Linked DNA regions of Homo sapiens: region 2 is linked to region 1. The links come from fine-mapping of genetic effects on gene expression. A gene starts in region 1. The other region holds a variant in brackets. All regions are shown on one strand. Distances are from middle to middle.

Region 1 (5,363 bases):
AGAAACCACGAGCAGGATGGCCGGGCGTGGTGGCTCACGCCTGTAATCCCAGCACTTTGGGAGGCCAAGGCAGGTGGATCACCTGAGGTCAGGAGTTCGAGACCAGCCTGACCAACATGAAGAAACCCCATCTCTAGTAAAAATACAAAATTAGCCAGGCGTGGTGGCACACACCTATAGTCCCAGCTACTTGGGAGGCTGAGGCAGGAGAATCGCTTGAACCTGGGAGACGGAGGTTGCAGTGAACCGAGATCGTGCCATTGCACTCCAGCCTGGGCAACAAGAGCAAAACTCTGTCTCAAAAAAAAAAAAGAAAAAAGAAAAAAGGAAACCACAAGCAGTTTCCAAACAGAACAACACCAGGGTCTGCCTGACATTAAACATGAAAACCTCTGTGCCTGTTCCACAAGCAGCCTCCCTTAGGCCACCTTAACCCAAATCTGAAATCCTCCCTCCAGCCCCCAAGTGACCCAGCCCAGTCAATTCAGCCTCTTGACTTTCCCAGCAACCTCCCTCACCTTTCCCACCTCACCATCCCAGCTTTGCCCCAGCCCTGCCCCCATTCCAAACCTCCAGGCCCTGCCCCTCATCCACCCTCCACACAGCAGCCAGGCAAGCGGTCTCCAGAACAGAAGCCAGATCAGACCCATCACTGGAAGCCCTCGCTTCTCCATGCCACCTTAACATAACACCCCACGCTCCGCCCCAGCAACAAACCCGGGTCTCTCACGCCTGCTCCCCCTCGGTATTTGAGGTTACTTCTGCTCACAGCTCTGCCTCACCTCCACCCTCTGCCCACTAAGCCGTCACCTTGGCTCTGTACTTTCTGGCTGTGTGACCCTAGGTAAGTGACTTAATTTCTCTGTGTCTATTCCTTCAGTTTCCCCATCTGTAAAATGCAGATAATAAGGCAGTTGTGAGAATACAACAAATTGAACTCATTGTATCTGCCTAACAGCCCTCACAGGCAGATTCTTTATCGTCGTCTCCCAGGCAGGCAAGCTGAGGCCCGGAGAGGAGAGATGACTTGCCCAAGGTGTCCCAGCCAGGCCTGCTACAGCCAGGCCTTCTGACTTCTTTGCCAGTGCTCCCACACACTGCCCACACCCTCAAGAGCCTAGCGCTGCAGTGCAAGGACACCCACCACACCAGTGAGCTCGGTGACACGTGGGTGGGGGGCAGTGCCACTGAGTCTTGCTGAACACAAGGGAAAAGGCCTGGCATCTTGACCCAAGGCCTCAGGAGCAGAGACTGCAGAGGGCCACGGCTTTGGAGAGATGGGAAAAATGACCTGGCAGGGCCCAGGGGGACAGATGCCACCCTGGGAGGGGCACTAGTAGCTCCCTTCCCCGGTAGGGGCAGACCCGCCCAGGAGCCTCAGCTTGTCAGCTGTGGAATGTTGAATTCTGTTCCCCAAGGCCAGCTCCCAGGCTCTCAACCGGGGAGATCCTCTCCCAGCCGCCAAGGACTCGCCATTGTCCCTCCCTGCCCCTCCTGGCAGGTCAGCCTCCTTGTGCGGGACTGGGGTGGGCAGAGGACTGTGACCCACCCCACTCTGCAGGAGCCTAAGGTGAGGCACCTGACCCAGGTACTACTGGAAGGGAAAGGAGGCCGGGGAAGGGGCCTGGCGGCTCCCTTCACGCCAGAATCTCCTTACCGGCTAAACCAGGGGTGGGGCTTGGCACGCATCCCACATCCCAGGGTAGGAAGGAGGGCTGGGCGAGAGGGGGCAACCTGCACCTAGCACGCCCCTGGGGTCTTCAAGGAAACACCTTCCCTTTCTCCACCAGGCCTCGGGATTATTTAGGGAGACTCCCTACCCCAACCCCGACCCCACGCTGTCGCTAGGACCCGCCCCCAGCAATCCGGGCCTCTGTAGCTACCTCGGGTGGTCCTGGAAGTGGGCGTGGGTGTGGCAGAAGTGGGGGGATGGTCCCGAGCTCCAAACTCTTGGGGCAGGGAGTGGTCTCCCCCAGCAAAAGACTGAATCTCCCTCTCCCACCACCCCCCAGCACAGGGCAAGGCGCAGACCCCGCGCTCACCCAGAAGACAATGTTGAAGCCAAACAGGAAGTATTTCCCGCAGCAGCCGACCTCAGGTTCCTGGAAATGCTGGTGCTTGCCGGGCATGGTGAGCGGCCACCCGCCGGCCCGGAAACCGGAGCCGGGAGCCAGGCCCAGCGCCCCGCGGGCCGCCCTGGGCTAGAGCCGCCCGGGGCCTAGCCGGGCGGCTGCGGCTTCATGGCCTCGGCCACACAGAGCGCCGGTCGGGCCCCGCCCGCCCCTCAGGGACCGCCCTCAGCATCCAGACCTCCTTGCCCGGAGCCCTGCTGTCCCCGCCTCTGGACCGGGCCCCGCCCCCACAGCCCTCAGTCCCTTTGGAGTCCCGCCTCCTGACCTGGCTCCGCCCCCATAGATCAACTCAGTCCCGCCTGAGCCCCGCCTCTGGACCTGGCTCCGCTTCCCGAGCTCCGCCCCCACAGCCTGATTCGGACCTCCTCGCAGCCCCGCCTTCGGCCAGGCCCCGCCCCCGCGCAGGCCGCCGCCGCGTTTCCCAGCGTCCTGCAGACCCGCCCGGGACGCCGGCTGATGGCGCCGGAGGCCGCCGGGGTGTAGAAGCCTTGCTTCCCCTGCTGGGTACCAGCGCCATCCCAATCCCCAGCCTGCTGTTGGAGCCCATCCCAGGGGAAGGTTAACTGCTGCTCTGGCAGGCGAATGGGGAAGCTGGTCCGGATTGAGTTTTTAACACGTGCAGGACGTTTTGTCATTGTGGAGTCGCATCAGGCTCACCTTCACCCAGCGGAAATCCAGCTCTACTTATCCTGACTCAAACTCAGGCCAAACGAGGGCCTGGGCCTTGGTGCCACGCCGGCTGCGCCCTGCCAGGGGCATATGCCCCCCGGAACCTGGCTCAAGCCCCCTTGGTGGCTGAGTTTCCCCAGCCACACCCCCTGTCCTCCATACTGGCCAGGGTCCCGGTCAGGCTCCTTGGTACCCAGTGATCTCACATGAGCCCCTGTAAGACAGGACAGAGGCAGATCAAAGTTTGGGGGAACCTGAATCTTACTCCAGTTTGAAGCCCTCTTAAAAATAATTCCAACTTTGTTCAGAAGTATTTATTTAAAACAGGAACAGAAAGATGCTTAAGCTTTTATTATCAAGTTTATCCACTTCCACCACTTCTACCAGAACCTTGGTGAGGCCTAGCCCAGCATCCCTCCACCTCCACTTCAGTCTGGCCCTGAGGCAGGCAAGGCCCAGACAGCCCTGGTCACAGCTGGGGAGAAGGGGAGCGGCCTTGCAAGGCTCTCTCAGTCCTCAGCAACCCACGTATCCCTCTGTACAAATGATGGCGTTCACCCTCCAGAATGTCTGTGCCCTTGAGCCCACCACCCATGGAAGAGTCTGTCTCTCAGGCCACCTCACCTCCTTCCTGGGTGGAAACAGTAAACGCTGGACTATGGGTTTCTCCGCCTACCATAGAGCCCTCCTTCCCCGCCATGACTCACCCCACCCTCAGGAGTTTTTTCCACCCTGCTGCTGTCCTGTGGCCCCAGGACAAGCTAGGTCCTCAGACTGCCACCACTACCCCCATCTAGCCCCTAAGGCTCAGGCCCCAACTCATGTTAAAGAGTGTTTGCATTCCTGTTCACTTGAGGACAGGTAAGAACTAGGCTGTCTGATCCCCAGTCCCGCCCCATCCCCCAAAGTAATGAGGCTCAGTGGCGGCTGTCCCATTACATAGGAGGGGTGCCAAGGCCCCCCTCACACCACAAACTTGTTCTTGGCTAGGGAGTTGCTCTTGGTGGCTGTGTCTGCATGGGCCTGGTACCCAATGATGGTCTTTGGGGAGAGGCCCAGGCGCTCTTTGTATACACGCCTGCAGGTGCGGGGGACACAGAGGAAAAGAGACACAGGTAGTCATCAGAGGGTCCTAGAGATAACTTAGGCCACCAGACTCCTACCCTCATTCTGGCCACAGCCACACCTGTTGTGTCTTACCCATGTGGAAACCCAAAATATGACCCCCTTAATGCAAAAGGAGAGCTGCACTGCCGTAAGAGAAAGTTAGAAATCTGAACGCCAGACCTTCCATACAGGTGGGCAAGGCAGAAGGGAGGGAGGCTATGGAGACTTTCAGAGGTCTCCCATGCAGGCCAAGCCCCCTCCACCCACCTTCCCTCTAGCAGAGACCCAAGTCCCCACCCTGTGCCAGAGACCCTCCTCACCCAACGTGCAGCACGCCCGCCTGGTTTTCCGCCTCCCTCGTCCACACAGCGATCTTGTCCCCCTTGGTGCGGATGTTGACGACGGCCCCACATACCTCTCTGCTGTGTTCCTCAAAGCTCTCCCCGATCAGACACAGCAGCTGGACCCGAAGTAGGGGGTTGTGAGATCACCGGCTGGGACATAGGGACTGGCCTGCCATCCTTGAGACCACTGCCACCATGAGACCCACACAGCCCGTCTCTTCCCCTGAGGACCCTCCTCCTCCAACTCACCGTCTCCAGCCACAGCCGGTCCAGCTCAATGTGGCGCTGCTGCTTGGCCAGGCTGACCAGCCAGCGGCCACCCCGTTTATTCCTGCTGTCCTCCCACATGGGCTGGATGCCATCCTGCAAGGCAGATGGCAAGTCAACTGCCTCCCTGTGTTCAAAGGGAAATGGGGACCCACCCACCATCCCGGCCTTATCCGCTCTCTGCTGAGGCCCTAAGTAGGCCAGATTCTCTTATCCTCCCTTCCCTCAGTGCAAGCAGGTTCCACCCCCAGCCACTCAGCTCCCCCCGACAGACAGCACTGGTCACCTTGTATAGCCTTGTATATGTGCATGTCTCTTTTACTGAGTTCCTTAAGACAAGCATTCAAATCGGGGTGGATTAAGGAAGCCTCAGGGGCAGACCCCAATGCAGGCAAGGGGGACATCCCAGGCTTGGCTGCATGGTTCCCAGGCAGGGCAGAAGTCACTGGGGAGATCTCTAAACACAATGTCAGCCCTCCAGGGATGGGTGTGGCATCAATGAGTGTCCTCAAGCAATTCTGATGCCCTTCCCTAGTTAAGGAGCCAGGTCAGAAATCTCTCCCTCTCCCTCTTCCCGCCTCTTAAGGTCCTCCAAGGTGCGGCTTGGGCCTGACCTACTCTGTCCGGGCTCCTGTAGAGCATTTCCTCCAGTCAGAAACCACAACTCTGCTGAGAGGTGGCCCGTAGCTCCCCACCCCCACCCCTCTGAGGGATTAACGCAGTGGAGTCCGGGAGGGATCAACCCCTTGTCCCTTTGCGGGAGGGAAAGAGGAGAGCAGAGCTTACCTTGAAGAGGGCGTAGTCACAGCCAGAGGAGAGCTTGCTGGCCAGCTGGATGTGACTG
Region 2 (5,363 bases), 32 kb before region 1:
TTGTGTCGTTCTGGCCTTTGAGGGAAGAAGGGGGAAAAAATCAAATTATCGGACAGGGTCCTTTTAAGAAGCTGCGGCTTTAATTTATTTTCTTATATTTTGTCAATAGCTGTTGTTTTTTTCTTAAACAAGTGCTGCACTTTATAAATGGATTTGCTTGGGCAAAACAAACACAGTCATTTCATACTTTTCCTTCCCTCTAAAACTTACTTAAAATACGGTGAGTGGCTAAGATGGACCCCCAGGGCCTGACCACCACTCAGAAAGGTGACCCGTGGCTTTAGAAAGACACCCGGCCCTGGGAGGCGGGACAGGAAGAGGGATGGATGCAGCAGCAGACCCGTGGCAGATAATCACTTCCCCGCCATGCAGCTTTTGGGGGCTCCAAAATCTCCTGGGAGAACTTTTTTGGTTTTTTTTGAGACGGAGTTTGTCTCTGTCGCCAGGCTGGAGTGCAGTGGCACGACCTCGGCTCACTGCAAGCTCCGCCTCCCGGGTTCAAGCGATTCTCCTGCCTCAGCCTCCCTAGCAGCTGGGATTACAGGCGCGCGCCACCCTGTCCGGCTAATTTTTGTATTTTTAGTAGAGACTGGGTTTCACCATGTTGGCCAGGCTGGTCTCCATCTCCTGACCTCGTGATCCGCCCGCCTCCGCCTCCCAAAGTGCTGGGATTACAGGCGTGAGCCACCGCGCCCAACCGGCAACATTTTTAAAGCACAGATTGCCCCACCCACCGGTGAAGAGTCTGATTTCCTGGGCCTGGAGGGTGGCCCCAGACTTGGGGTGTTTAAAGCTCAGGTGACTGGATAGTAAAGCAGCCAGGAAGCTCAAATTCCAGCCCCTCAGCCTGGCCTTCCTGCCACCCCTGGGCAGCCACGCTGCCCTGGTCCCCACTCCACCCCAAGTGCCCTGGACTCCTTCAGGGGCCCCCAGCTTCTGCACCTCTGCTTCCTTGGCCTGCAATGTGGACTCACCTTTTCAAGTGGTTGAGTCTCATCCACTTGATTATAATTCTGGGTAGTCATCACCATCCATTCATTCATTCATCACCATCATCATTCATTCAGCTGTTCATTGAAAATTTATTTATTCAACACTTTTATATGCCAGCCTTTATGTACCAGAGTAATATACAAAGATAAAAACAAAAAGAGAGAGTCCTTGGCCTCCAGAAGCCCGTGGAACAGCTGGGCCACAGTCTCCCTTGGCCTCTGCTGTGCCCCACGCAGAGCAGGGGTCTCAAGCCCCAATGTCCCCTGGGGTCTGGCGAGGCGCTGGGTGACTGAAGAGGGCAGCCGGGCCTTCTAAACGGGGCTGCCCCCCAGGTTTGCCTTGTGGAAGGCCACCCGGTGTCGACTGCCCGTTTTTCAGGAGAAGCCAGCAGTCCAAGTATTTCCATGAACCCTGGCTTTTTAATGTGACTGGTTTTCTTTAAATCCACCCTCCCTGGGGGCCACACGGAGCTTTTCTGCCTGGACCCTCTGCTGCCGGGTCCCCAGTCTCCAATCCTCGCGGATCCCAAAGGCGGAGCTCAGGCCCCGTGGCGCAGGAGCCATCCGGGTGGGCGAGGCCCTGACCGGATGCCTTCCCCCGGGACCCGGCTCGCTCCCCTCGCCCTGCAGCTCGGCTGAGACGCCTCCCTGAGACACCGCCCCGCGCCCGGGAGCCGGCCCAGGCGGGTGGGTGCCTTTCTCCGACAGCGGCGGCTCCCGGGAGGCGCACTCCACGCCGCTGGTTCTGCGGCCTCCAGTAATAAATTGCAGCGGAGGCGAGAGTTGAGCTGCAGGGCGGGAGGTGCGGGTTGAGGCTGGAGGCTGCGACTCGAACCCCGACAGGGGACAGCGAAGTGAAGCGGGGCGGATGGACGGACAGGCTGCGGGGTACGGGGTGCGGGGCGGGCAGGGAGCTGGACCCCAGTCCCATCCTCTGAGCTGCGGGGAGGCGCTAAGGCCGGAGCAGAGCGGCACTGCAGCCTGCAGGGGTCTAAACAGGGATCCCCTAGGTCCTCCACGGATTAAACAAGATGAAGCCTGAGCCTGGCCTCTCTCTTCCTCTGCACACCCAGTCACGTCCCCAGACCCTTAGCAGGACGAGCCTTGCTCACTCACGCTTGGCGTCCGAGATGCCTCGGATATGTCCTCCTCCCGGTGTTGACAGCCTCCTGCCTGGTAGCTGGCAGAGCCCCAGGGTGACAGGGAGAGGAGCTAGCCTGGCCCTGTAAGGAGTCTGGGGATCCCAGGCAGGGGGATGTTCGGAGGGGAGCAGTGGGGCCCACGGAGACACCCACTCATCAGGTCACCAGCCACCAAGACAGCCCCTCCTAACTCCTGTGGGAGGGGCCTGGACAGAATGGATGGGGGTAACTTAGAGTCCCCATGTGCCCCCACTGAGGCAGAATGTATGTCTTGAAGCAGA[G/A]GGGTCACCAGATTGGTCCTGGGACGTGACGGGGGACCCTGGTGGTCTAAGAGGGGCATGCGGCAGGGATGGATCCTGTACCAGGCAGGACGGAGGACTATGTGGAGCCAGTGTGGAAGGCAGAGACCCCTGGGTTGTGGGTGCAGCGTTGAGGTCACACAGATGTCTGGGGAGTTTGGCCCCACTCGAGGCCTTGACCCTTCCTGGGTCCCTCCTCCACCTGAGTGCAACCACAAATGGACCAAGAACACCCCAAAATGGGCCAAATTTATCCTGAATTTACTCTAATGGGGACTCAAGACAGAAATTAAGTTTTGTTTTAGAAAACCTTAGCAGGGATTTTGCACCCCCAAGATGGGTTTGTGACCTTGGAGACTCTGCCCCACACCAGGCACAGAGTTCTCAGTAGCATTCGGTGTCCAGGCAGGGACTGCTGAGCCTCTGCTCTGTGCTGGGCCCTGGCTTGGGAAGGAGCGCAACAAGGTCCCTGCTCTTGGCGGCTGATATCAGAGGAGGAGATGGTCAGTTAAAGTAGCTCAGGAGCTCATCTCGGATGGTGGTGAGTGCTGGGAAGAAACGCAGACATAGGGAAGGCCCTGGGACAGGACTGGGGACTGCTTTAAAGGGAGCCAAGTTGGCCTCTCTGAGTAGGGCCACTGGGCTGAGCCTCAGATGAGAGGAGCTGAAGGTGAAGGTCAGAGGAGAAGGCACCCCAGGGAAGTGAGCAGCAGGTGCAAAGGGCCTGGCAGGGGCCTGGGCCCAGCTTGGGGAGATCAGCAAGGAGGGGCCCACGGGCGCTCACTGCTCAGCTCAGCCATCTTGGCAGACAGCCAGCTTCCCTCGGCCAACAGTTCCAACAAGGGTGCAAGAATATAGCCCCATTGGCCAGGCCTGAAGCCAGAGGCCAGGGTCAGCACTGCCTAAACTACTGGGAGATGAAGGTTTCCCAAGTGAGAACCAGGAAGGAGAAAGATGTGGGCCAGGCAGACATGTGGAGCCCACCTTGTTTGGGGTGAGGACCGGAGGCTCCGATTGCTTAGGGAATATGCCCAGGAACCGGAAGTGGATTCTGGCTCTTAAGTCTGCTGACCACCGCCCAGTGCCTCCTCTGAGCCTTCCTCTGTCCCAGCCTCCTCCAGGCCTCTCCCTCTCCTCTGGCCACCAGGTCACCCAGGCACCCGGGACTGCCTCTTTCCTTCCTAGTCATCACTACCTGCCCTCCCAGCTCTTGCCTGCTCCTGGCAACATCCTCACCAAAGGGGGACTTGGGGAGCAGGAAGATAGATGGCTGTGTTCACCACTCACCCAGCCCTCTCTGTTCCCCTGACACCTACCCCCAGGAGGGAGAGCGAGGAGGAAATGCTCAGGTACACACCAGTGCCCATCACATGACCAGGGACGGGGAGGAAGAGCCACCCCACCAAAGGCTGCATTCACTGTCCCTCATTCAGCCCTGGATTGTGGGTGTGAATGTTCAGGCCACTCACGCAGGTGTGCCAAAACCACCACCTTACTTTCCTACTATATGCATGCTTCCTTTCCAACCTCCGTTTTCTACTGAGTAGCAGAAAAGTCTTGAGTTCAGTTCAGCTCTGTCAGCTTCAACTCAGAAGATTCAGGGCCCCCTCCCCCATCTCTTGGACCCCACAGATCCCAGCAAATATGGGTGACATCATAAACATCAGGGGAGGTGGCAGATGGGTCATCGGTCGATGTCATCCCTGCTGGCACCCCCAAGACATACACTGGGACATGTGGTTCTTGGCTGTCATCTCTGTTCCGAGTTGGCAGCCGATGAGCTGTCTGCGTCCCCATCTGGTCTCTGCTTGTAAGGGCCAAGCAAGTTTTGGCTGTGGCCTCCTCTTGTCACAACTGGGACTCCCTTCCAGGCCCTCCTTGAGAACTTGGCCGCTCCCTACAGGGCACTGGGGCTGGGGAGCTCGCTGGGCTGTCACAGGCCCTCTGTTGAGCCACCACCGCTCACTCCCTGTCTAGAGTCTCCTGGCCTTCTCAGGGCACAGGGCACCTGGGGACCTTGCCCCTCCCAGGAAATGAGGTTCAGCCCCACCAATCCCGAGATCAGAGCTGCAGCTGCCCCTGGGGGCTTATCCTTCCCCAGGCGTACCCCCACCCAGCCCAGGAGAGCCCTCTCCCTTAGTTCCTTATATTCTTCTGTCCTCCACAGCTAGACAATGTTTAACCTCATCTGTCCATGCTGAGGGGGAGACACATGCTGTGCAGAGAGCGTTCCAAATGTACTGCATGTGGTAGGACCTGGACTTTGGAAGCTCCACAGCTAAGGTTTCCCTTCTCTTGTTTCTCTGCTTCTCTGTGCAGCCTGCATCCCTCAAGGATAGGGCCTAGTTGTTGTGGTAGTGGGGAGTGTGACAGGAACAAAACGGCCCTCACTAGGGGTGACATCACAGTGCTACCCCCTGGAAAACTGGAAGTGGGGGCAGCCCTGGGGGGATGGGTACTACAGAACTGGGTGCCCCTCTCTGGGGCAGGTCCATGAAATCAGTGAGATGCCTGGTTGGGGACCCCCTGGCAGGGGCCAGGGAAAGCTGCCCTGTCACCCAGCAGCAAGTAGACATGGAAATCAGGACCTCTGACCCAGCAGTTGGTGAACAAGACCCCGGGGCTGAATTTGGGGTGGAGGAGCCGTGCGGGGCTGGGTCTGAGCCTCTGGAGTCCTCTGTTAGGTCCCTGCTGCTCTCCTGGGCGTTCAGGAAGGCTTTGTTAAGCCCCAGCAGTGACAAAGTGTGTTCAGGGACCCAAGAAAAAGGCTGTTCATATCAGAGCCAGGATGTATAAAGGGGTAGCGTTTGTCACAGGCCCCTCAGGGATGGGCGGTATCATCATCACACCCCAGGGGGGAGAGTGAAACTCAGAAAGCACTGGTATAGGTTTAATGCAAGCAGGAGTCCCTCGAAGGGCTCCCAGCTCAA

What was found.
Region 2: its variant is fine-mapped to the expression of TSPAN17 in nasal epithelium (TOPMed, PIP above 0.99).

The regions. Positions count from the first base shown.
Region 1 is chr5:176,644,382-176,649,744 of GRCh38, reverse strand. TSPAN17 (tetraspanin 17) reads right to left here and starts at 2,261. Exons shown (of 9, transcript NM_130465.5): 1 at 2,043-2,261. The coding sequence starts at 2,129. EIF4E1B (eukaryotic translation initiation factor 4E family member 1B) reads right to left here. Exons shown (of 9, transcript NM_001099408.2): 6 at 5,306-5,363; 7 at 4,502-4,615; 8 at 4,229-4,368; 9 at 3,101-3,879. The coding sequence ends at 3,765. RefSeq lists enhancers at 1-14, 132-1,001, 3,363-3,657, 3,928-4,438, 5,020-5,363 and a silencer at 2,030-2,689.
Region 2 is chr5:176,676,668-176,682,030 of GRCh38, reverse strand. No RefSeq gene overlaps it. Among named protein-coding and RNA genes, the nearest start is that of TSPAN17, 32 kb to the right of the region's middle. RefSeq lists enhancers at 238-1,197, 1,198-2,158. The variant G/A (reference allele first, on the strand shown) is at 2,416.